3 linked regions of the Homo sapiens genome follow. The protein of the gene in region 3 purifies or fractionates together with the protein of the main gene of each other region. This does not show direct contact. Each region holds a gene or a part of one and is shown on either strand. Other genes may lie near its edges. The genes, in order: RAB3IL1, CDK19 and CYRIB.

What was found.
Region 1: the proteins of CYRIB (region 3) and RAB3IL1 purify together in Homo sapiens (affinity purification with mass spectrometry; 2 studies listed by BioGRID and IntAct, with this or other methods). This does not show direct contact.
Region 2: the proteins of CYRIB (region 3) and CDK19 purify together in Homo sapiens (affinity purification with mass spectrometry; 3 studies listed by BioGRID and IntAct, with this or other methods). This does not show direct contact.

The regions. Positions count from the first base shown.
Region 1 is NC_000011.10:61,907,537-61,914,638, forward strand, and holds part of RAB3IL1 (guanine nucleotide exchange factor for Rab-3A), read right to left. Parts: intron 771-7,102; coding exon 518-770; intron 125-517; coding exon 29-124; intron 1-28. UniProt on the Homo sapiens protein: Guanine nucleotide exchange factor (GEF) which may activate RAB3A, a GTPase that regulates synaptic vesicle exocytosis. Promotes the exchange of GDP to GTP, converting inactive GDP-bound Rab proteins into their active GTP-bound form.
Region 2 is NC_000006.12:110,616,397-110,623,498, forward strand, and holds part of CDK19 (cyclin-dependent kinase 19), read right to left. Parts: intron 7,083-7,102; coding exon of another isoform or gene 6,992-7,082; exon of another isoform or gene 6,973-6,991; intron 6,967-6,972; coding exon 6,894-6,966; intron 6,517-6,893; coding exon 6,419-6,516; intron 5,771-6,418; coding exon 5,692-5,770; intron 4,975-5,691; coding exon 4,708-4,974; intron 1-4,707.
Region 3 is NC_000008.11:130,013,506-130,021,565, forward strand, and holds the start of CYRIB (CYFIP-related Rac1 interactor B), read right to left. Parts: upstream 3,056-8,060; 5' UTR 2,865-3,055; intron 1-2,864. UniProt on the Homo sapiens protein: Negatively regulates RAC1 signaling and RAC1-driven cytoskeletal remodeling. Regulates chemotaxis, cell migration and epithelial polarization by controlling the polarity, plasticity, duration and extent of protrusions.

The sequences.
Region 1 (7,102 bases), on a different chromosome or scaffold from region 3:
AAGTTGTTCCCGCGCCCAGCCGGTGTACCTCAAACAGGCTGGCCGTCAGCTCTTCCAGCTCCTGTTCTAGCTGCTCCCGCACCTTGGACAGCCGCTCACATTCCTCGTCCTTTAGCTTCAGCTCCTGGAGGAAAAGAGGCAGGCACTTGAGCACCTCAGCATCCCCAGGCCTGGCACGGGAGGGACCAGGCCCACCGGACCAGGTTCCATCCCCTCGTCATTTTATGTGGGGCTCAGAGTTTATTTCCTCTGGTGCCTGACAGTTTGTGATGCTTTTTCCGTTTAGCCACAGCATGAAGCTGAAGCCCTGCCTGCCAGTTCATCAGAGCTCAGGGCACGTTTGCAGTCAAGACGGGTGACCATCGGTGCGCCCAGTACAGGCCTGGCCAGCAGCTGGCCTCGGTGAGGGCACATCCCTCTCCCTTGGGCACATCTCTGGGCACCTGATGAGAGCCCACAGCTCTCCCAACCTGACTTCTCCCCACCGAAGACCCCCCAGCCTACTGCAGGCACCCACCTTCTGCGCTCTGTGCAGCTCCTCCTTCAGGAACTCGGAGCCCTTCTCTCGGATCTCCATGGAAGAGCTGCGCAGGCGCAACACGTCCAGCTGGGCGGCTGCGGGGCCCTCCTGGCCTTGGGCCTCCTCCCCTGCAGAGGTCTCCACCAGGGCTCCTGGGGACTCCCTGTGGCCTTGGCAGGGGTCCGTGCTCTTCCAGGGGACCGGGACAGCTGCAAGGGGCGGCGGGAGGCCCTGGTCTGGCTGGGGTGGGCTGGAGACAAACAAGGGTATCAGCAGGTTCAGGGTGGGGTCCTGAGGCCTGGAGAGCTGAGTCCAGAAACCGCCCCGGGGCAATGTGCCTGCCACTTGAGCCTCAGCCTTTCCATCTGAAAACTGGGACCCTACCAGCTATCATCAGTGTTGTTACAAGGGCAAATGTCCAAGCACAAAGTCTCTTGGGGCAAGAGGCTTATTACTCTTTGTCAACCACCCCTTCCAGCCCAGGGCTGAGGGCTGTGTTTGGCACATGCAGTAGGTGCTCAGCACACAGTAGGTGGTCAGCGTCTTTGTCTAACAGGTGACTGTAAATGCATCAGGGTTGAGTCCCACTTGTATTAAGTGAAGCCTATTCCAATGGCCCTACCTCAAAGGTCACTGAATGATCAGAGGAGGTGTGGGTAAAACCTTGACACCTCGGATGCACTCAAGCAGGAGCTGCCTTCACTGATACAGTTAATGCGAATTCTGCCCCTTTCAGGGTGGACCAGAGAGGAAGGATGAGGCCAGGGCAGGCAGGGCTGAGGCAGGAAGATTCTGCAAACAGCTTGGACAAGACAGACCCACTTCCTGTCCCCCTGGACTTGGTGGGGAGCAGTCCCAGCTCTCCCCTGGCCTGCCTTGTGACCTCAGGCAAACACCCCCTTCTCTGGGCCTCAGGACCCTCCCTTCCCTGAAGCTGAAGACCCTGGAGGTGGTGTGAGGCCTCATTCCGCCCCCACCCACACTCTCCACTCCAAAGTGGACCCTGGAGAGGGAAGGGAGGGCGAGGGCCCGGCCAGCGGTGTTTTGTGCCAAGACAGCACCTCTGGACTCGCTCACTCAGCAAAAGCTGGAGGCTCCTGAGCCAGCAGCTTCTGAGCCGCAGCAACCAGGGCTGGGGATGGGGGGCTGGGCGGGCCACTGATATCAGTGAGGGAAGTTGGGGGGAGGGGCTCAGGGAGGCTGCACCAGAGGGGGAAGGCAAGGCCAAGGAGAAAGTGGGACTCAGGACGGCTGAGGCAGAGGGAGGAGTGAGAGGCAAGTCTGTGGACCAGTCTCCCCTCCCTGTCCTCAGGACCTTGGGAAGGTCACCAAGCAGCCCCTGAGCCTCAGTTTCTCCCTTGGTTAACACACAGAAAATGGGCCCCCAGAGACTCCTGCAAGGAGCCCACTTCCAGCAATGAGTCCCTTCACACAGCCCGGTCCAGCTGCCCAGCCCCACCTGCCCTCTGCTCTGGAACCGGCCCAGAGTGTGGCCTCAAGGCTCCTCAAGCTGGGTCCTGCCTGGCAGGGATGTGGGTCTTGAGGATTAAGGTGGGGACACATATCCATCACTCCATCAACAGTGTCTATGCCAGACAGGGCTCTCTCCTAATACTCCTGTTTGGGGAAGTCTTGTTGGCAAGGGTTCCCCGCAGCCTGAGAGCTATGGCGGAGCCCTGGGCTGGGGTCTGTGCCCTGGGGACTCACTCTGCCAGACTCTTCCACAGGTCTCTGACCACGCTGTCTCCTTTAAAATTCTCTCAACAGCAGCTGGGTGCAGTGGCTCACGCCTGTAATCCCAGCACTTTGGGAGGCTGAGGCAGGTGGATCACCTGAGGTCAAGAGTTCGAGACCAGCCTGGTCAACATGGTGAAACCCCATCTCTGCTAAAAATACAAAAATTAGCCGGGCCAAGATTGTGCCACTGCACTCCAGCCTGGGTGACAGAGCGAAACTCTGTCTCAAAACAAACAAACAAACATAAAACTCTCTCAACAGCACTCGTGGTATTGTCCCATTCTACAGATGAGGGGACGGAGGCTCACAGAGTGAAGGGACTTGTCAGGGGTCACGCAGCTGGTCAGTGACAGTGCTGGGACAGGTGGCCAGGTCTTCAAGCCCAGGCCCAAAGCTTCCCCGCTGCAGGGGAAGGGCAGGTGGGTGCGGAGTGTGAGTGTTGGAATCGGCGCATCTGCTTCAAGATAAAGCGCTGCTGGGCCCAGGGAGACTCGGAGGCTCCTCTTTGGCTGCAGTAGGGAAATCTGACCCAATTCTGGCCCGAACTGGCTTCTCAGACTCTGCGCAGGCCCAGAAACCCCCTTTCCAGAAGGCAGGGCCTGGGCAGGGGGAGCTGTGGCAGAGAGAACAGGCCAGATGGGGCAAGCCTGGGGTCCATGTCAGCCTCTGACCTGGGGTACACATGAGCCCCTGAGAATGCTACTGAAATTTTCTGAACCTGCTTCTGCACCTGAGGGATAGGAGCTGAAATCCTGCAGGAGGTGCTCTAAGAATCAAGAGCTCTAAGAGCAGTCCTGACCTGGTGCTGGGTGAATCATGTTCAATCCACAGCCATGTTTGGCTGAGACACTCACGAAGCCTGCCTGGGCTCTGGGTCCCACAGCTTAAACTGGAGGCCTGTGGACCCTTGCCAAGAAGACTTCCCCGAACAAGGGTATTGAGAGCCCTGTCTGGCACAGACACTGTTGATGGAGTGATGGATATGTGTCCCCACCTTAATCATCATGGCCCAAGTCCTCAGGTAGGACAGGATGGCCATAGTCACTCAGGCTGGGCTGGGGGCTGCTCACTGCAGGCCAAGGGCAAGAGGTGACAGCACAGGACAGGACAGAGGACTCTTGCAATTGCCTATGCCCTGACCGAGGAGAACCAGGCTGCCGGCCCTCCCATGGGGGCCGAGCTTCATCCACCAGTGTGGTCTGGGCCTCTGGCCACAGTGAAAGACTAACTCTCTCTCCTGCTGGTCCCAAGCACATAGGCTGGAGGTGTGGCTGGCTGACCTCACCATTTTCCCAACAGGCTCTCATTTTTGCCTTGTGGGGCAGAGTGGGGACAGGGCCCAATTTTGTAGCCAGAGGAAACAGTGGTCCAGGAGGCCTGTGACAGAGTCTGTGACATCCTTCCCATCACCCCCAGTAGAAGAGCCCAAGGCCAAATCCCAATGGCAAGAAGTGTGGGAACATGGGAACAGTGGGACCACCCAGTAGCCACCAACTCCCCAACGCCAAAGGTGGCAGGAGCAGGAGGGAAGAAGGGCCTGACCTGCCCTTGGAGGGTAGCCAGAATCTGCAGACCCTCTTCCTCCTCATTTCCAGGCTGCAAGGCCAACTCCTGAGACTCAGAAATTTCAAAGAAGGGACCCTGGGCTCCTCGGGTCCAGCCCAAGCCAGAATCTCCAATCTCACACACACTTTAGCCTCCCAGACCAGAGGCCTGAAAACCTGGCTGTGAACACCCAAGTCAGTGGTGAACTCAGTCGTGGGGCAAGCAGGGACCACTTAATGTTCTGCTGCCCAGCGTCCCTACCCTCCTCAGTCCGGGTCCACCGCTCTCTGTACAAACCTCCTCAGTCCCCGTTCCCTGCAGAAACAGAGCCCAGCATCTGAGATGAGCCACAGATGCCTCTGGAAAGGAGCCTGTTCAGAGGGTAGGAGTCAAGGTCAGAGGTAGATGGGGCACCCAGCCAACATCCCCCATCCCAAAGCCAGCTCCCACTGCCGAGAGGCCCAGGCAGTTCATACAGGAAAGGCCCCACGGGTCACTTCCCCAGGAAACACACAACCAAAAGAAAATGCAGTAACCACAATCCTCACCCCACCAGGCCCACCCTAGGAGGGCCAGCAGGGCTCTTGCCCCGACCCACAAAATAAGAAGGAGACCTAGACTCCGTGGCCCTCGGTCTCTCAGTGTCCCCAAGCCAGCAGGGCCTGGCCAGTGGCCAGACCAGCCTATTCCTCAACCAGTGCCCAAGATGACCCTGTCCAGTTACCTCCTGGAACTAAAGACCCCTGTTGGTCATGGGCACAATGGATTCATTCAATAAGCAGGGGAGGGGACAGCAAGGGTGGTTCTGAAACTGGACGAAGGAGACGGCTGGGAGGGCACACTGGGACCACTCAGCGGGCTGCCAGGGCCCAGGCCTCTAGGGAGGCTGCAGAAACCCCGACCCAGGGCCTGGCTCCCCGGGGCGGTGCCTTGGCACAGGGGCCTGTTCAGATTCACGCTCAGCCTTTGCGGTGACACTGAGGGGACGGAGGCTCACAGCCATGTGATTAACATCCAGGGACCAAGGGAGTCCCAGGAAAGGGTTGGTGGGCCAGCTCTCAGGCCAGCCTGCAAGCCCAGCAAAGCTTGGCTCCCCTAGAGAGCGGCCAAGTCTTCAGCCCCAAACCCACAAGCATGTCAGGTTCCCAAGCGCTAGGCCACATCCACGCCAGCCCACCACTCCACAGGTGTCATGGCCTGGAAGCTCGGGACAATTGCAGGGAGATGCGCTCCTCCACCTGGTTTCCAGATGAGGCCCCTGAGGTTCAGAGAGGGATGGTGACCTGGCCAGAATGCACAGCAAGGAAGTGGCAGGATGGGAACTGAATGCAGAGTACAGGCATAGCGTATCACGTGGCCTGTCACCCAGAGGAAAGGGGATGAATGGCGGTTTTGGAGAAGTGAGGCAAGAGGCAGATGGGGTTTGAGGAAGTCTGAGACAGCGCCCAAGTACTGGAGGTGCCACCCAAGAATGCTGTACAGCCAGGCAGGACCTGGGCTAAGAGGGGACAGCAGAGGGGACACACAGAAACAAAGATGGGAAGGGGGAATTGTGGGAGGAACAGGGGCTGGATGGGGGGGCAGGAAAAAGCAATAACAATAATTAAGATAATTCAAAACTAAGGAAAAGGTGAAAGCTGAGAACAGCGGTACCCATGCTGGGAGTGAGGAACTGGGAGGGGGTCTTTCAGGGACAGGAAAGTGGGTGGCTGAGGCATCTGGGAAGTGGCACGTCCCGTAGGCAGCTGAGGGGGAATAGGCAGGATGGGGTGACGCTGTCGAGTGGCACTGGTTTCGGGGAGCAGCTGCAGCCTGAGCCTGGATGAGGGGCTGTCAGGGAGGACAAGGGCTTGAGAGCCAGAAAGGACGAGAGTGTTGGACACCAGAGCCGAAGAGTGTCTGGGACCCGGGGATGAAAGAGATCGTCATGAGTCTCACTGAATTGGGCCAGGAACCAATGAGCTCAAGTCAAGGAGGGGACAAAGGGACAGGTGGGAACCAAGGTGGGCCTGGGCCACAGGGGAAGGGGAGCCAGAGTAGGGAGAAGGGCACAACAGCATGTCCTAGTAGAGACCATGGAGGAGGAGTGGGGGAGAAGGTCAGGAACAGCTGGGGATGGGAAGCAGATCAGAACACCTAAAGCAGGTGAGTCAGGCCACGCCTCCGCCGGCCATAGCCCCAGGCCACCAGGCCAGTCCAGCCCACCCCTGGCGGGGGAATCCAGCCCTGTCTCTCCATGGGAGCCAGCACAGGGCCTAGGAGGGGGCGCATCTCACTACTCTTCTACAGGGCTGGGCACGCAGTACATCCTCAAATGCGCCTGTGGCGACCCTGCCCATTCAGTCCAAGAATTGACACCGAAGACCTCCAATAGCTAGTGTGTATACTGAGCACCCATTATGTGCCAGGCACCCCACCAGCCATGATCCATCCAATCTGCACGACCAGGCAGCCCCCTTCTTACCATATCCTATTTTGATTTGCATCTCCCTCCCGCTACCTCATTTCCAAAGACCTATTGGGCATAAATCATGTGCAGAGCTCGGAGGGTCTAGGACAAGCAGGATTCTAATGAGGATGTCTGCCCCCAACACCCATGTCCTGATTAAGGAACAGCAGGAAAGATCTCCACCTGTTGAGGGGTAGAGTAGGCAGTTAGATCACGGAGGGCTTCCAGGGAGCAGCAACAGTGAGGGTTATACAACCCCTTCCCAATGAAGAGGCCTGTGTGCCTGACCTGGAGCCCTCGGGCCATACTTCAGACTCTTGTCTCACGGCCTCTAGTCCCCTGTGACTTGGGCCTTACAGGCAGGAGCCCACAGATCCATGCCCTTAGAATAGCCAAGGCCCAGGGCAGTGAAGTGACTTGCTCAGGATCACACAGCCAGTTGATGGCCCCTACAGCCCTGCCTGCCGCAAAAACATGCTCCCCAACCCCTGGGAGGTTGGAGTGGTCTCATCTCATTCCTGGGCCATCCATCAATGCCTGGCCCTCTCTAGCCATAGGTATGATGAGCCCCGTCTCTGGGGAAACTGAGACCAGGGGGCTGGAACAGTGTCATGCAGAAACTTGAACGCTGGCTTCTGCTGACCAAGTCCCAAGTGTCCAGCACCATGTTAGATACAGAAGTACTCAAGACGCTGTCCTCACCTCGTCACCTTGGAGCAGGCTTGGCACCCAAAACTATGAATGTGTGAAACTGTGGGGAATCGGAAGGGGGACAACCCAGTTTGGAGGGGCACCTAAAGTCAGACTGGAGCTGCCTCTGGGTTTGGAGTTCAGGGCCCATGCTCAGGAGT
Region 2 (7,102 bases), on a different chromosome or scaffold from region 3:
GTGGCTCACACCTGTAATCCCAGCACTTTGGGAGGCTGAGCTGGGCAGATCACCTGAGGTCAGGAGTTCAAGACCAGTCTGGCCAACATGGTGAAACCCCATCTCTACTAAAAATACAAAAATTAGCCAGGCATGGTGGTGGGTCCCTGTAGTTCCAGCTACTCGGGAGGCTGAGGCAGGAGAATCGCTTGAACCCAGGAGTCAGAAGTTGTAGTGAGTCAAGATTGGCGCCACTGCACTCTAGCCTGGGCGACAGAGGGAGACTCCATCTCAAAAAAAAAAAAACAAAACAAAACTTAGTTTTGCCCCTTCCTAAGTTGCACAACTGAATAGTCACATTGGTTACAGAAGTCTTTAAAAATTCCAAATTTTAATTACGTGTTTTATTTTGAAGTTTATTATGAAAAATGTTCTTTCAACTCATACGTTATTTGGGGCAATTTTGCCATAAAGTATAATGTAAACATGTAAGAATCTAATGTGCTGTAACATAGCTTTTTTAATGACAAAGGGTTTTTTAGACAGAAAATAAGCCAATGTCCCGCTTTTCAAAGCGCTAATTGTACTTGCTTACAATACATTGATGAAGCAGCTCAAAAGCCTTGAAACTCTACTAATGGAACTGTTGGGGCACAGAAAACAATACCCCAAAATGAAGGCCTCAGGAGCAAAAGTTTTTCTCTGACCTTTTTGTGCCCTCTTGTCTCACAGTCCCATTCTCCTCAGAGCCAGCCATAGAAACTAGAATTCCCCTTCCCTAAGGCAAGCCATAGAAACCAGAACCCCACTTCCCCAACACCAGCTGTGAAACCTAAAAATATTACTCTAACTTCCCCCTACCTTTCTGTGTAAAAACTGGACATAAAGAAATGATCTGGCATATCCTGTCTGACTGTAGGTCATGAGACTCCTGTCCCAGAGGGGGTCCTGCCCCACACCCAGAGGCAGGAATGCACGCTTAGAGAGACCAACAGGAACCTAGACAGGCCATGTTGGGTTTCCCCCTCAGTCTATTAGCATCAGATCATACCCCTTCTGTCCAATCATGTTTCTACATGGCTGTCTACACTTTGTTGACCCTAAACCATAAAAATGGACAATTTCTGGCCGGGCACAGTGGCTCACGCCTGTAGTCCCAACACTTTAGGAGGCCAAGGAAGGTGGATGACTTGAGGTCAGGAGTTTGAGACCAGCCTGACCAACATGGCGAAACCCTGTCTTTACTTAAAAAAATAATAATAATAATAAAATTATTTATATATATATACACACACACACACACACACACACACACACACACACACACACAAATTAGCCGGGAGTGGTGATACATGCCTGTAGTCTCAGCTACTTGGGAGGCTGAGGCATGAGAATCACTTGAACCCAGGAGGTGGAGGTTGTAGTGAGCCAAGATCACGTCACCGCACTCCAGCCTGGGTGACACAGTGAGACTCTGTCTCAAAAAAAAAAAAAAAAAAAAAAAAAAAAAGACTACATGAAACACACTTTGAATTTCTGCTTAAAAACCTAGGACATCATTATATGCTCATTAACATTCTAAATCACACACTCACCAGCACCATGACAGTTCCAAGAACATCCATATTTGGCATAAAAATGGGTGGCACCACAGTTCCAAGAAATCTCCCCCTTTTTCCAGGAATTTTCATGAATATTCCACCCTTTGGTTAAAGAAACCCATAAAGATAGAAACCCAAACCAGACTGCATGACTCTCTATTCATTTATTTTTTTTCAGATGGAGTCTCACTCTGTCACCCAGGCTGGAGTGCAGTGGCGCGATCTCGGCTCACTGCACCTCTGCCTCCCAGGTTCAAGCAATTATCCTGCCTCAGCCTCCCAAGTAGTTGGGATTACAGGCTTGCACCACCACAACCAGCTAATTTTTATATTTTTAGTAGAGACGAGGTTTTGCCATGTTGGCCAGGATGGTCTTGAACTCCTGACCTCAGGTGATCCACCCGCCTCAGCCTCCCAAAGTGTTGGGATTACAGGCATGAGCCACTGTCCCCAGCCAGATTCTCTCTTGCGTATACCCACACTCCCCTTTCTTGAGTTGTGTACTTTTCCCTCTGCAATAAATCTCCATACTTTTGCTATTTTTGACTCATCCTTTAATTCCTTCTCCCGATGGTGTTAGGAGCCTGGACACAGGGTGGGGTTGAGGTCCCACCAGCATCTGGGGACCTCCCTCAGCCCACTGGTATCAAAGTTGTATGCCTTTCTGTCCTGATAAGTAAGCAACAAGGAGGAAGGGGCTCCAGGTGGGGAAAAACAATGAACAATTGTTCTGAGACACTGCTAGTCACAAACAACTGGTGGGCACAATGACCTCATTTGGCACATAGCTCCCTCCCGCAAGACCCTGTAAAACTTCCTTCCAGCCCCTGCTCTTTGCAGACAGCCCCTCCCTCTGCTATGCTGTCTGTTGCAACAACATGTTTTCATACATTCTGTAATAAATCTGCCTTTCTTTACCCAGAACTCTTAGTAAAAACCTTGACTGCCTGAGACACTGGCCCTAGCTAGTCACACCCATGACATTTTCTCCAATTAACCTGCCTTTTGTGAGTTGATTTTTCAGCGAACTTTCAGAGAGTGAAAGGAAAGTTTTTCCCTTGGCCCCTAGATGGTGTATGAGTTGCAAGTTCGGTGTAATGGGACACCTGACTGCCCCTCATGCCAGTCTCTCCAACTAAATAGCTGTATCTATTCATTTAATAGATATGTTGGAAGGTTTATTATTTTTTTCCACAGACATCAGGACTCAGCTATGAAAGGTTTATTTTTAAGTCAACAGAACAATATGGACATAGAAAAGCATTTCAAAGAATGTTTGAATTTGGGGAAAAAAAGAAATACAGTAATCTGTCTATAATTGACTACAATTGGGTGACAAAGACTCTTTCCTTTGACAAAAACTGCAGTCAGGCTGCTCTCAGGCAGTCAAGGTTTTAACCAAGATGGTTTTGGGTAAAGAAAGGCAGGTTTATTACAGAAGGTATGAAAACATGTTGTTGCCTGGGGCAGCACAGTAGAGGAGGTGTTGTCTGCAAAGAGGCTGGAGGGAAGTTTTACAGGGTCGTGTTGGAGGGAGCTCTGTGAGTCTTCTGCTTGACTAGGCCTGACCTTGGGCTTTCCTCTGTCCTTGGAGAATCCTGTTAGAGCAAGAATCTTGCTAAGTTGGCTTGGCAAAAATCCCCCACCTTTAAAAGCTTATTACCCAGGCCTCCCTTCAGCCTAATACTATGCAGTCAGTTTAGCCAGAGACCTTTTATCCTGGATGTTTCCTCTTGGTAACTTTCCATCCACTGATCCCCACCCTGCTCTTTGGCTATACCTCTCCACTTGTCATGTAGGAGTCTGAATTGAGTCCAGTCTTCCTCCCCAACTGCCAGCCCCTGTTGCAGTGGTCCCTTTATGCACTAACATGGCCCCGCCTTGAATAAAGTCTGCCTTACCAACTTTAACAAGTGTTTAGGCAAATTATTATTATTTTTTAACACAGGTTAATATAATTCAATCAGACACACAAAGATGAACCAGTATATAGTAAGCATTTGTTGCTCATATAATGGAGGGGAAACAGATTTTATAACAAAATTCAAATATGCTCATGCTACTACCCAGCTAGCAAGCTGTTTTTAGTAGATCAAACTGAAGCCTAAATTTGTTTAATTGGAACCAAGTGGAAGTATTATGTACTCTTCTGCTTGCAGGGATATTCTGAAGAGAAGTTTTTCAGAGTAGTTGTGTGGAAACACATTAGTTTGTTGAGCTATTCAAAATGTGAAGGCAGTTTATGCAGCTATTTGTTATGTCTTTCTTGTTAAAGTTTCTCTTTATTGCAGTTCCTTATCAGTGAGTTTATGGTTCCCTTGCCAGAGGTTTTGTTTTCTATTATCTCTATCCTATGCACTCATCTGCAAGAGTTCCCGGAGGGACTGTGGTTCTAAACTTAAAACAAACAAAAAAACAAACAAACAAAAAACTTAAGTTTTCCCTTCTTCCTAGATGGTTTCTTAACTTGTTACTACCTTGAAAAAAAATTTTTTTTTCAAAATTTCCTATGGTTATCACAATGGGTATTTTTACCTCTCTCCAAATACCAATCCTTAGACTTAGCTCCTTTAATTTCCTGAATTAGCACTGCAATTGGTGTTCTCTTTTTATCTGAATAACAAAAAGTATTTTCTAGTCTCAAAATTATTTCTAATGAGACTTAACAGTTATTTCAGAAAAGCCTCAGTCTTAGCCCCCTTCTCTTCTTTATCTATGTAGCTACTTCCTCCCAGAAAGAGCATATCTTTCTAAAGAATGCAATTAATTTTGTCCAAAGTAAGACACCACTCCCCTTCCCTTTTCAACTGCGTATCTACGTATCTTTTTCTGATACACCAGAACTGCTAAGGCAGCTATAAGGGTAAAATGATGAAATTTTCTTTAAGGATGGGGGCACTGGCCTCCCTACCTTCCTCTCCTCGGGTGTCAGGATAAACAAGTCAGAATACGAGATATCTTACAATTACATGAAATATGATGAAAATCTTCCTCTTCATAGAATGCCCTAGAAACAGGATTGCACAGTCAAATGTAAGAGTTAAGTGTTACTTAACTCTAAAAGGATCTAGGATAAATCTTTTCCCCACTTCATAAAGCATATGAACATTAGACATTCAGGGAGTACCTGATAATCCGAGGGCATCACAGGTCCACCTGAGTTTGCGCCTGAAGGCCCTAGCCGTGGCTTCTTGTTTGGAGGCACCTGGTTCAGGCTGGAGTCCTGGCTGTGCTGCAACCCTGCTCCGGTGCCCCCGACCCCGGCCCCAGCCCCACCTGCGGTCCCGTTGGTCTGGGTGCTGTTCTGCTGTGGTGGGGGCGCCTGTGGAGGGGCTGCTGCCTGCTGTGGAGGGGCTGTGGGCTGCTGATGCTGGTTCTGCTGCTGTTGCTGATTCTTTTAAGGGGAAAAAAGCAAGCTTGGTATGAAACCAAATTAACAGGAGCTTTCTTTAATTATTTGATATGCACATGTGGCTGCTGACCAACCTGGGGGAGCAATCTATGTGGGACACTAGAGTGATGGGGAGGACTGGAGAATGGAGCAGCCAGGGAACACAGTGTTCCCAAAGGGCAAGGCGCTGAGCCCCAAACAGGACTCTTTCCCTGAAGTTCATTTAGACTGCACAGTGATCCTCCAAATCAGTCACAGACATCTCACTGAAGGCCACAGGCACATTAGAAATACATTTCTTATAGCTCATTAAAACAGCTAGAAGAAATCTTTTCAATCGTGATTCTGGAAAGGCAGAGCGGTCTGGAGAGTGAGCCAATATATCCAGTTAAGACGAAAGAACAGAGTGATGCTAGCAAAAGCCAGCCTGCATAAAGGGGTGGTAGTGACACCAAACAAACAGAAAGAGCAAGAAGTGGGAATCCGGGAGTAGAACTGGCTGTAACACACACCGGAAGCTCAGGTATCTGTGAGCTGGTCATACTTCAAACTTCAAGGTACCTTTACAATCCCCAAACTTCCACAGAAAATAAGATACATTCAAATTTAATTAAATATTAGAAAAGGTGGTTAAATGTATAGGAATTATGGAACGATACCTAAACTATCTTTTTGCCTCCCTTGCTCTTTGGAAGTGAAAGTATACCGTGCAGTTTATACCTTGTCACCTTTTTCTTCAGGATCATCTTCATTAAGGAATTCTCGTTTGGGGTATGGAATCTGGCAGCCGGCAAATACACTAAAAATCATTAAAAAGAAAAAACATATCATGATCTAAAATCTGTAATATCATTACCTTGTTAATTTAAAATTCCAATTTGTTTTTCTTCACTTATTTCCTACTCTTCATCTGTGGCTAGTGTTCAAATCTTGACTGCTGCTAGCTAGTTGACATATAGGACACAGAAGTTTCTCTATACTAACTTCATTAGCGCCAAAAATAACTTAATTTGTATTTGCCTTAACAAGAAAAACTACACCTCTTATAGATGAAAACACAAAGTCTATACTTGGGGTTAAGAAGGATGAAGGAGTAGAGAGGTTTTGTAGTGCAGTGGACATGCTCTGAAAGACAGATTAACTTCTGTTGCCTACTGGTTTGGCTGAATTTCTGATCTGGCCAATTGGTCTGTAAAGGTCTTATCTGTTATCAGCTTTAGTTTTCATCTGTAAAACTGACAAATGGTCGTTCCTAAAATACTTGTTTTCATTCATCCCTCTCTGCAGCTTTGCCTGTTTCAAAATGTGGAAGCTTGCTCTTGAGCAGTCTTTAGGTGGTATCATTGAAAAAGTTAAATACTTCAGTAGCAAGTGCTTCCCTTGCTTTCAACCACCATGCAGCCTCCTCAGCCTGGAGCAAAGGACACAGAAAAGACAGGATACATACTCTAATGTTGGCAAAGGGTCCTCCTGAAAATAGGGATCCTGCAGAGCTTGCTCCGAGGTAATTCTCTTGGTTGGATCCATGGTCAGGAGTTTCTGAAGCTAGAGTGACACACAGGAAATGTACAGCACATGAAAAGGTTATTTACAAGTCAACACCTTGTCTTTTGTATTACTGTGTAACAGGATTAATATAAAATACATTTGGTGTAGCTCACTGCAGATTATGCATACTACATACTTTTATGTGAAATTGGCAGAAATCATCAGCATTAAAGCCCTTATAAAGTTCATTTTCTGCTGATAAATCATTTAAAGTGAAGGCTGAAAGACAGGGTGACATCTCAACAAAAAAAATATTTAATTTTACCCCAGCATCCACTAATTTCTTTTGTTTCTAAAGAGGAGGAATAGCTGAGTAAATAGAAGGCGAGATTTGTGCTGAGAATCAGATTTTAGTCTGGGAGAGAAGCACCTACCAAGAGGAACACTTTGCTGTCAGGCTTGACCTTGTGTTTCTCCATGTACTTTATGAGGCTACTGTTGGCATACCTGCAAGGACACGCACAGTCACACATCACTGGGAACACTCATCCAATTGATATTTCTTAATGATAAGCTCCAGGATTGGCTTTCCTATAAGGTATGTGTTTAAGTCATTGTTTTTTCTGAATAAGAAGAAACACAT
Region 3 (8,060 bases):
CATACTTAAAATCTGAATTTTCAGCTATACAACACTTCCTTTACAATGCTCAGTGGTGGACGATTTTGCTGAAGACAGCCAAGTCCCAGACCGCCAAAGCCACATGAATCGTGGTCTCTTCAATTAACGAGATGGCAGTAATGCTGAGCACGGGTGAGGCCACAACCTCCTGGCACCCGCGTCCCTCGGGCGTCCTTCCTGTTCTTCGTGTGCATGGGTCTCTGGATCCTGATATAAGAGCTGTCAGGGACCAGGATTCCACATAGGGAGGAACCACGGGACAACCATTTCAAGGTCAACTGCAGGCCAGTGCGCTGACCTTGAGATGGAAAAAGAATGTACATCCTCAAAGAGCAAAGGGGAACCCATCATTCTTCTGCCCATTCTGTCAAAAGACACGTACTGTTTCCTGCATGGGCCAGGCAGCAGGTCAGGTGCCAGAGGAAGCACAAAGACCACTCAGCGTCTGCAAGAAGAAAAGTGAGCTCTGCAGGCTGAAGACTTAGGCAAGGACCCTCAATCTGCCCCTTCCTGACTGAAGGTCTTGGGCCAAGTCCTGCACTCTCTCTAAGTCTCAGGAAAACGAGAACCCTAGCTCTCCTTTACAGGTAACCCTGGCCACTCCACAGTTCAGTCATTAAAAATGAATCTGGGCCGGGCACAGTGGCTCACACCTGTAATCCCAGCACTTTGGGAGGCTAAGGCAGCGAGGATCCCTTGAGCCCAGGAGTTCGGGCAACATGGAGAGACCCCATCTCTACAAAACATTAAAAAATTAGTTGGGCATGGTGGTGCACACCCGTGGTCCCAGCTACTTGGGAGGCTGAGGTAGGAGGATGGCTTGAGCCTGAGAGGTCAAGGTTGCAGTAAGACATGATCACGCTACTTCTGCACTACTTCAACCTCAGCAATGCGTGAGACCCTGTCAAAACACAAACAAAATGAATCTGCACATGCTCAAACTGCAGCACGCTGCTGCACAGAAGGGTCTGCACTGTCTCTTAAAAATAATAGTAGCACTTACGGGGGTCGGGAGTTGGGGGACCCACATAGCTAAGGATCCTAAGAGAGGCACACAGAAGACTTTGGGAGCTGAGAAAGGAGAAGGGGTGGCTGTCAGAGACAGCAAAATTACTTGAAAATCTCCCAAAGTGAAGGGCAGAAACATATATTGGCCTTTATCTGAAAACCATTTCCAAGTCTCCCTGTGCTGGAACCCACTTCAGCCTCCTGCATCACACACTCTGCCCTTCTCCGTGCTGTGAGCCCAGCAAGGATCTAGAGTGCAAATTCCAATGTGCCTCCTCAGGAAGAAAACTCAGGCCAGCTGACCACTTCTGCATGCCGACCAAGGTAGAAAAGTCACCTCTTCCGGGCTTCCCCCACATTACAGGAACCCCAGGCCTGGGAAACCATCCCAGACGTCAGCCCTGGCTCAGTCTTGGCTGTTGGCCTCAGCCAGTCACCTGGCGGTGGCAATCAAAATGACGCCTTCTTTTTATTTTTCCCCCAGTGCAATCTTCCAAGAATGGGAGAGTCTCAAAGTCAGAGTTTAAGCCCTTTTTCACAAGGGAGTCAGTATTTTCACAAGATGGTCTTCCTCAGAGAGGGGAGGAGTCCATCCAACCCAGATAGCAAAATTGCTCCCTGGAGATCCTGGATGGATGTTACAGGGCAAGGAAGCCAAAATGTGGAAGCACACCGACTCACCTCTCAAAATTCACCACCCACTCGTTCATCTCACAATTATCTATGGGGTGCTTCCCACGTGCTTCAACGCACCCTTTCTAGGTGCTGGGGATGCAGAAATTCAAGGTGACTGGCAATGACACTTTCTATCACTGCGCCCCCTGCAGGCCAGGAAATCTACGCTCGTTTTCTCAAGGCCCCACTCGCAGCAGCCCATTTCACAGACGGGACCCTAAGACTCAGAGAGGGTAAGCGACTTGCCCAAGGTCACACAGCTAGTAAGCGGCAGGGCCAGGAATTAAACATAGCTGCAAAGTGCATGTGACACTCCCCCGCAGCCCCAGCTCTATCCCTCCGCACCCCTCCACCTCTTGCAGCAGGGTGGGTAGCAAAGGCACACTCCAAGTAGCTCCAGCATGGTAAGACCTCGATTCCTCCTTCGTTCCACTCCTGACACAGGACACACGTTTCAAAGGACACACAGGTTTTTCCCAACCCCAGTGTGTGTGTACACAGCCCCAGGAAAGCCCTGCAGGCTGCAAGGGCACCCACCCGCTAACACTGAACTTCCATTTAAAAAGAAAGATAATGAAAAGATAAAAGGCGAAGAGGAAGTGCTCTTTAAACACAGGCGGGTGGCTACCCCAGGAGGAAGTCTTGAGGCCAGTGGAGATTTTGTTCACCCCCTCTAGTTCCTCAAATCCAATGCGACTGGTCTTCCAAGCCCCTGATGGGAGGTGGCCGGGGGCCAGCGCTGCTCCCGGGGTCAGTCCCCGCACCGACACCCGGCTCGCAGGAAGGGTCTGCCAGGGACCAGCCACCCCGACCCGAGCGCCCCCTGCCTCGAGGCGCACAAGGCGCCGGCTCCGCAGCTGGGTGGACCCGGGCGGCGGCCCCGCTGCGCGCTCCCCTCGCGTCCGCCCGCCGCCCCCCGCGCACTCGAGGCGCCTCCCCCGGGACCCCCGCGCCCGCCGGCCCGGACGCCCCCACCACGGCGGCGCCCCCTGTCCACCCGCCGCAGCGCCCGGCCCGGCGGCCCGGATGGTACCTCCGCCTCTCCCCGCACCCATCACGCGCGCGCCCCGCACCCCGCGCCCTCTCCGGGGGCAAATCGGATCCAGGGGCGCGCGCGCGGGCCGGCCGGGCGGCGGCGCCTTCAGAGCCCCGGCACGTACCTGGCGGCCCGGGCGGGCGAGGGGAGCGCGGCGCGGGAGCGCAGGAGCCTCGGAGCCTCCGGTGCCGCCGCCGCCGCCGTTTCCGGGTTGGCGGGGCTCACGTCACCGCCACAGGTTTGCGAGCTGCCCCCGCCGCGGCGGCAGCAGCAGCAGCAGCAGCAGCCCGGGCGAGTGCCAGGCGAGAAATAACTATAAAAGGAAGAGGCGCGGCGAGGAGGAAGAGGAAGCGCTGTTTACCTTCGAGAAGCCGAGCCGCCGGCGCTCGCACAAAAGGAGGACGCTCGCCTCGCGACGCGCCTCCCCCCGCGCCCAGTCCCCGCCGCATCGCGGGGCCCCGGCGTCAGCGCGCGCCGCGCCCCGGGACCGCCCCGCGCCGGCCCCCACCCCAGAACCCCGCGCCCGCCTGGCCCGTGTCCTCCCGAGCCGGGGCGCCACGGGCCCGGGACGGTGGTGACCTTGGGCAAGTCACCGCGGGGCGCGCTGCGATTGGGGGTCATCGCCCTCATTGTGCGAGGAGGAAACCCGGCTCCGAGAGGCGCAAGAGTGACCCCCAAGGTCACTGCCTGTCAGGCAGGGCTTGGGCTCGAACCCCGGTCTCCAGACCTTCAGGCCGGCCAGGTTCCCATCCCTGGGTCGCTTCCCCCTCACCTGGACTTCAGGAATGGTGACAGCCCCTGCCTGGCTCACCTCGCAGCGGGGTCAGTGAGAGGAATGCTGTCCACGCACCCATTCAGCCCTCCCGCAGATACTTACTGGGCCTACTAAGTGCCCGGGCTGTTCTAGGCCCTGGAGCTGCAGCTGCGAACCAAAACAAAATCCCTGCCCGGGAGGGGCAGCGGGGACAGGCCGTAAATATCTGATGGGTCCTATGGTGCTAAGTGCTGTGCCAGAGGAAAAATAAAGCGGGGTGAGGGGACGGTGCGGGCTGTCGGTGCTACCCTAAGCGGTTCTCCAAGGACTTTAAATTTAGTACAGAAATTCCCACATAAAAAGCTCCTCGCCATAATTCCAGTTTCAGGTATTATGGGAGACCTCATCTTTCCCCTGATCTAGAATGGAAAATACTGTGTTTTTCTCCCTGTAACAGGACATGCCTAGGAAACTGATACTCTCCTTCCCTCTGCCTTGCTCCCCTGGCCCAGAAGCCCATCCTATCATTATCTTGACATTCAACCAGAAATTTCTCGGGAAGATAGACAACATTCTCTCAAGTATCTTTCTGCTGTCCTCTAGCAGGGTATCAAAAGGGTTACATCAAAGGCTTCCATTGTCTTTCCACCTCCACCTCCAGCTATAGGGGGGTTGGAGTGTGCTCACATCATACTCAGTGCTGAGTTACCTGATTAGGAGCCAGTTGTTCCATTTCTTTTCTTTTTTCTTTCTTTTTTTTTTTTTTGTCTAAGACAGGATTTTGCTCTGTTTCCCAGGCTAGGTAGCGCAGTGATGCGATAGCTCACTGCAGCCTCAAATTCCTGGGCTCAAGCGATCCTCCCACCTCAGCCTCCCGAGTTGCTGGGACCACGGGTATGCACCACCATGCTCAGCTAATTTTTATAGATTTTTGTAGAGGTGGGTCTCCCTGTGTTGCCCTGGCTGGCCTGTTTCTCCTGGGCTCAAGGGATCCTCCCTGCCTCCGCCTCCCAAAGTGTGGGGATTACAGGCATAAACCACCACACCCAGCCCGCCAATTCTTTAACAAAGGTGCCTTGCGCCTTCTCTTGGCCAGGCCCAGTTCTCGGAGCTGGGGACCCTGAGATGGTGCCATTTCAGCAGTACTCCCTGGACTGCTCTCTAAGCTTACCCGAGCGCCAGTGCCTTCATTCCTAAAGGAAGGGAACTAATGTCCACCTTGCTGTGGGGGCTGAGAAGTAGGTGGGGAAACACTGGGTCCTGAACTATGACCTTGAGGAGAAGCAGGAAAAGGGTTTGGAAGCAGGCAGAGCTGAGCCGCTTATAAAATGAGCATTAACAATTCTGAACATTTATAAAGTACTAAGCAGGTGCCAAGTGTGTGCAGGCCCATGAAGCAGGTTTATCATGGCCCAGTGTCATGCATTAAGATACTGCAGCTGGAAGAGAGATGAGATTTGCCCAAGATCACACAGATTAGACAGCGGTGGAGCTGGGTATGTACCTAGATTGTCTGACTCCAGAGCCCAAGCACTTAGCCACTCTCAGCCTCAGTTTGTTCATCTGTGAAATGGAATGGATAATAATGACTTCGTTAGGTTATGGTGAGGGTTAAATGAAATAGCGAATATATAGAACCTAATATGGATAGGACCCAGGAGAAAGCAATCACCATTGTTGTTACTATTATCATAACTGTTACAATTTACCTTTTTTTTTTTTTTTTTTTTTGAGGCAGGGTCTCACTTTGTCACCCAGGCTGGAATGCGGTGGCGCAATTTTGGCTCACTGCAATCTCTGCCTCCCGGGTTCAAGCAATTCTCATGCCTCAGCCTCCCAAGTAGCTGGGATTACAGATGTGCACCACCACGCCTGGCTCATTTTTGTATTTTTAGTAGAGGTGGAGTTTCACCATGTTGGCCAGGCTGGTCTCGAACTCCCAACCTCAGGCGGTCCGCCCACCTCAGCCTCCCAAAAACCGCACCCAGCCTAATTTTTGTATTGTTCTGTGATGACAAGATTTTGCCATGTTGCCCAGGCTGGTCTCAAACTCCTGAACTCAAGCGTTCCACCCGCCTCAGCCTCCCAAAGTGCTAGGATTACAGGCTCAAGCCACTGCGCCTGGCCTACCATAATAATTGTTAAAGGCATGAGGTAAGGAACTTTCAGGCAAGCTTGGGATCTGTAAATAGTTTGATGTGAGCGTAACATGGAATGCAAATTTGGGGGTCCAGGAAGCAGGGAAGAATAGATGAAGGTGAGGGCAGGGCTTGGATGCCTGCTAGCCTGCACTCTACTGAATTCTGAAATATGTGGGATGGAGAGTCTAACTCTGATGTGTGTGTCTCAGAGGAGAAAGTCTCCATTCACTGGATACAGTGAGGCTGAGAGCATGAGCCTAGGCTCACTCTGATCCTGATAGGTTTGACCAATTCAAGCCATTGGGAACCTGGGAATAATACCCGGGGAAACCTCTGGCAATTCTGTAGTGACTGCTCTGTTTCCCCGGGATGTCAACCCTGACAATGGTAGGCAGAAGTCCAGCATCCTATAGACAGCACTGTCTTTGGAGTTGGGAAAGCCTGCCTGCCATTTTCAGCTGTGCAATTCTGGGCAAGTCATTTAACCTCTGACTTCTTGAATGTTCTTATCTGTAAAGTGGGAATAATAACATTATCTTCTGTTGTTGAGAGGACTATGTAAGAAAATGAGTTTTTCATGCTTTATAACTGGAAAGCAGCATGCACATTTTACTTTCAACATTAGAATCTGGTGCTTTCATTGGCCAAGCAAAGAATCTTGAAAAACCAAGATTTTAAAAATTAAAAATTAAAAAAGAAGGCTGTGCTTTCATAGCACATGTGGTCCACACAGCTTTCAAGCAAAAAAAAAAAAATAGCTATTTCCTTCATATATGCAAAAGTCCCTCAAAAATATTCCTCCAAAATGCATTTCCCTGCTGAGCATTTGCAAGAGTGCTATTATGTACAAAAGGTAACAGAAGGTAAAGTTGGGAGACACAGAGACTCAGTTTTTGTCCTGCTGTTAGTATTTTGCAATTAAGCCCACTCCACATCCCATCGTGATAAAAGCAAACTCAGCGGCATTAGTCTCCTCACACCTGCTTTTCAGTCTCCTCACACCTCTGGCCATTGGGAACCGAAAGGGAAAACTACGCCCAAGCTCACTAAGGAATGCCGTCCTGGCACTGGAGCACAGCCCTCGGAAGATGCTTCAGAGGCTCAGCTAGCCCCTTTAGGCTGGGAATCCCACTCAGTGAGGTGGAATGACTTCCCGGGACACACAGAGCTAACCCTCAAGTTGGAACAGGGTCTTTACCGGGAGATGCAGAGCCTCGGGCTTCAAAGGCTGATAAGTGATTGTTTCCTGGGGCTGGGAGGAGGGGAGAATGGGGAGTAACTGCTTAATGGATATAGGGCTTCTTTTGGGGGTGACAAAAATATTTTGGAATTAAATCAAGTGTGGTAGTTGCACATTAGTGAATGTACCACATGCCACCCAATTGTTCACTTTAAAATGGTTAGCTATGTGTCATATGAATTTCACCTGAATTTTAGGGAAAGAATAACTTGACGGATAAAAAGCTAGTGAGCAGAACCTTAAGTATATTTTCAGTATTTCAGTATATCCACAATAGCATTGCAGAAATGAACCAATATGTCAGAATCATAGCAACAGAGTGCGGTAACTAAGAGCAGCCGGTTTATGTAACTAATCCTTTCACAATGGAAAGTAAAAGGATTTAGGATTGAATAATGTAGTTTGAATATTATTGTTATTATTATAACTTAATTGGTGCTTTTTGTGTTTTTTGAGGGTTTTTTGTTTGTTTGTTTGTTTTTCGGTAGAGACGGGGTTCCAATATGTTGCCCAGGCTAGTCTCGAACTCCTGACCTCAAGCAATCCTCCTGCCTCAGACTCCTAAAGTGGGATTACAGGCATGAGCCACCACAGCCCGCTCATTAATTTGTGTTTCTGAAGAAGAGTGTAACATAGTGGAAAAACCAGGCTCAATTTAGAGAGAGCTGAATTCAACTCCTGCCTTTAGTTCCTATTGGCTGCAGGGGCTTGGAAAACTACTGAGCCTCTCTACGCCTTGCGTTTCCTCATCAGGCAAAATGGGGGCGGAGATGCTGCGTCACCGTCATCTCAGGACTGTGGGGGGGACTGGGTGGGACAGCATAGGTGACATTCACCCGGAAGGTGCCTCATCGGTGACAGCTATTGTTATTGTTGTCATTGTCGCCATCGTTGTTGTTACTATACGGTGTAGAAAATCTTTCAGAACATGGACCCATGGGGAAAACCGGGTACATCTTAGTCCATTAGGGCTTCTGCGACAAAGCACCACAGACTGCATGGCTTATAAACGACAGAAGTTTCCTTCTTGCAGTTCTGGAGTCTGGAAGTCCAAGATCGGGGTGCCGGCATGGTCAGATTCTGGTGGGGGTCCTCTTCCCAGCTGCAGATTTCTGCCTCCTCGCTGCATCCTCAAGTAGTGGAAGGGCCAGAGGAGCTCTCAGGGGTCTCTTTTACAAGGACACT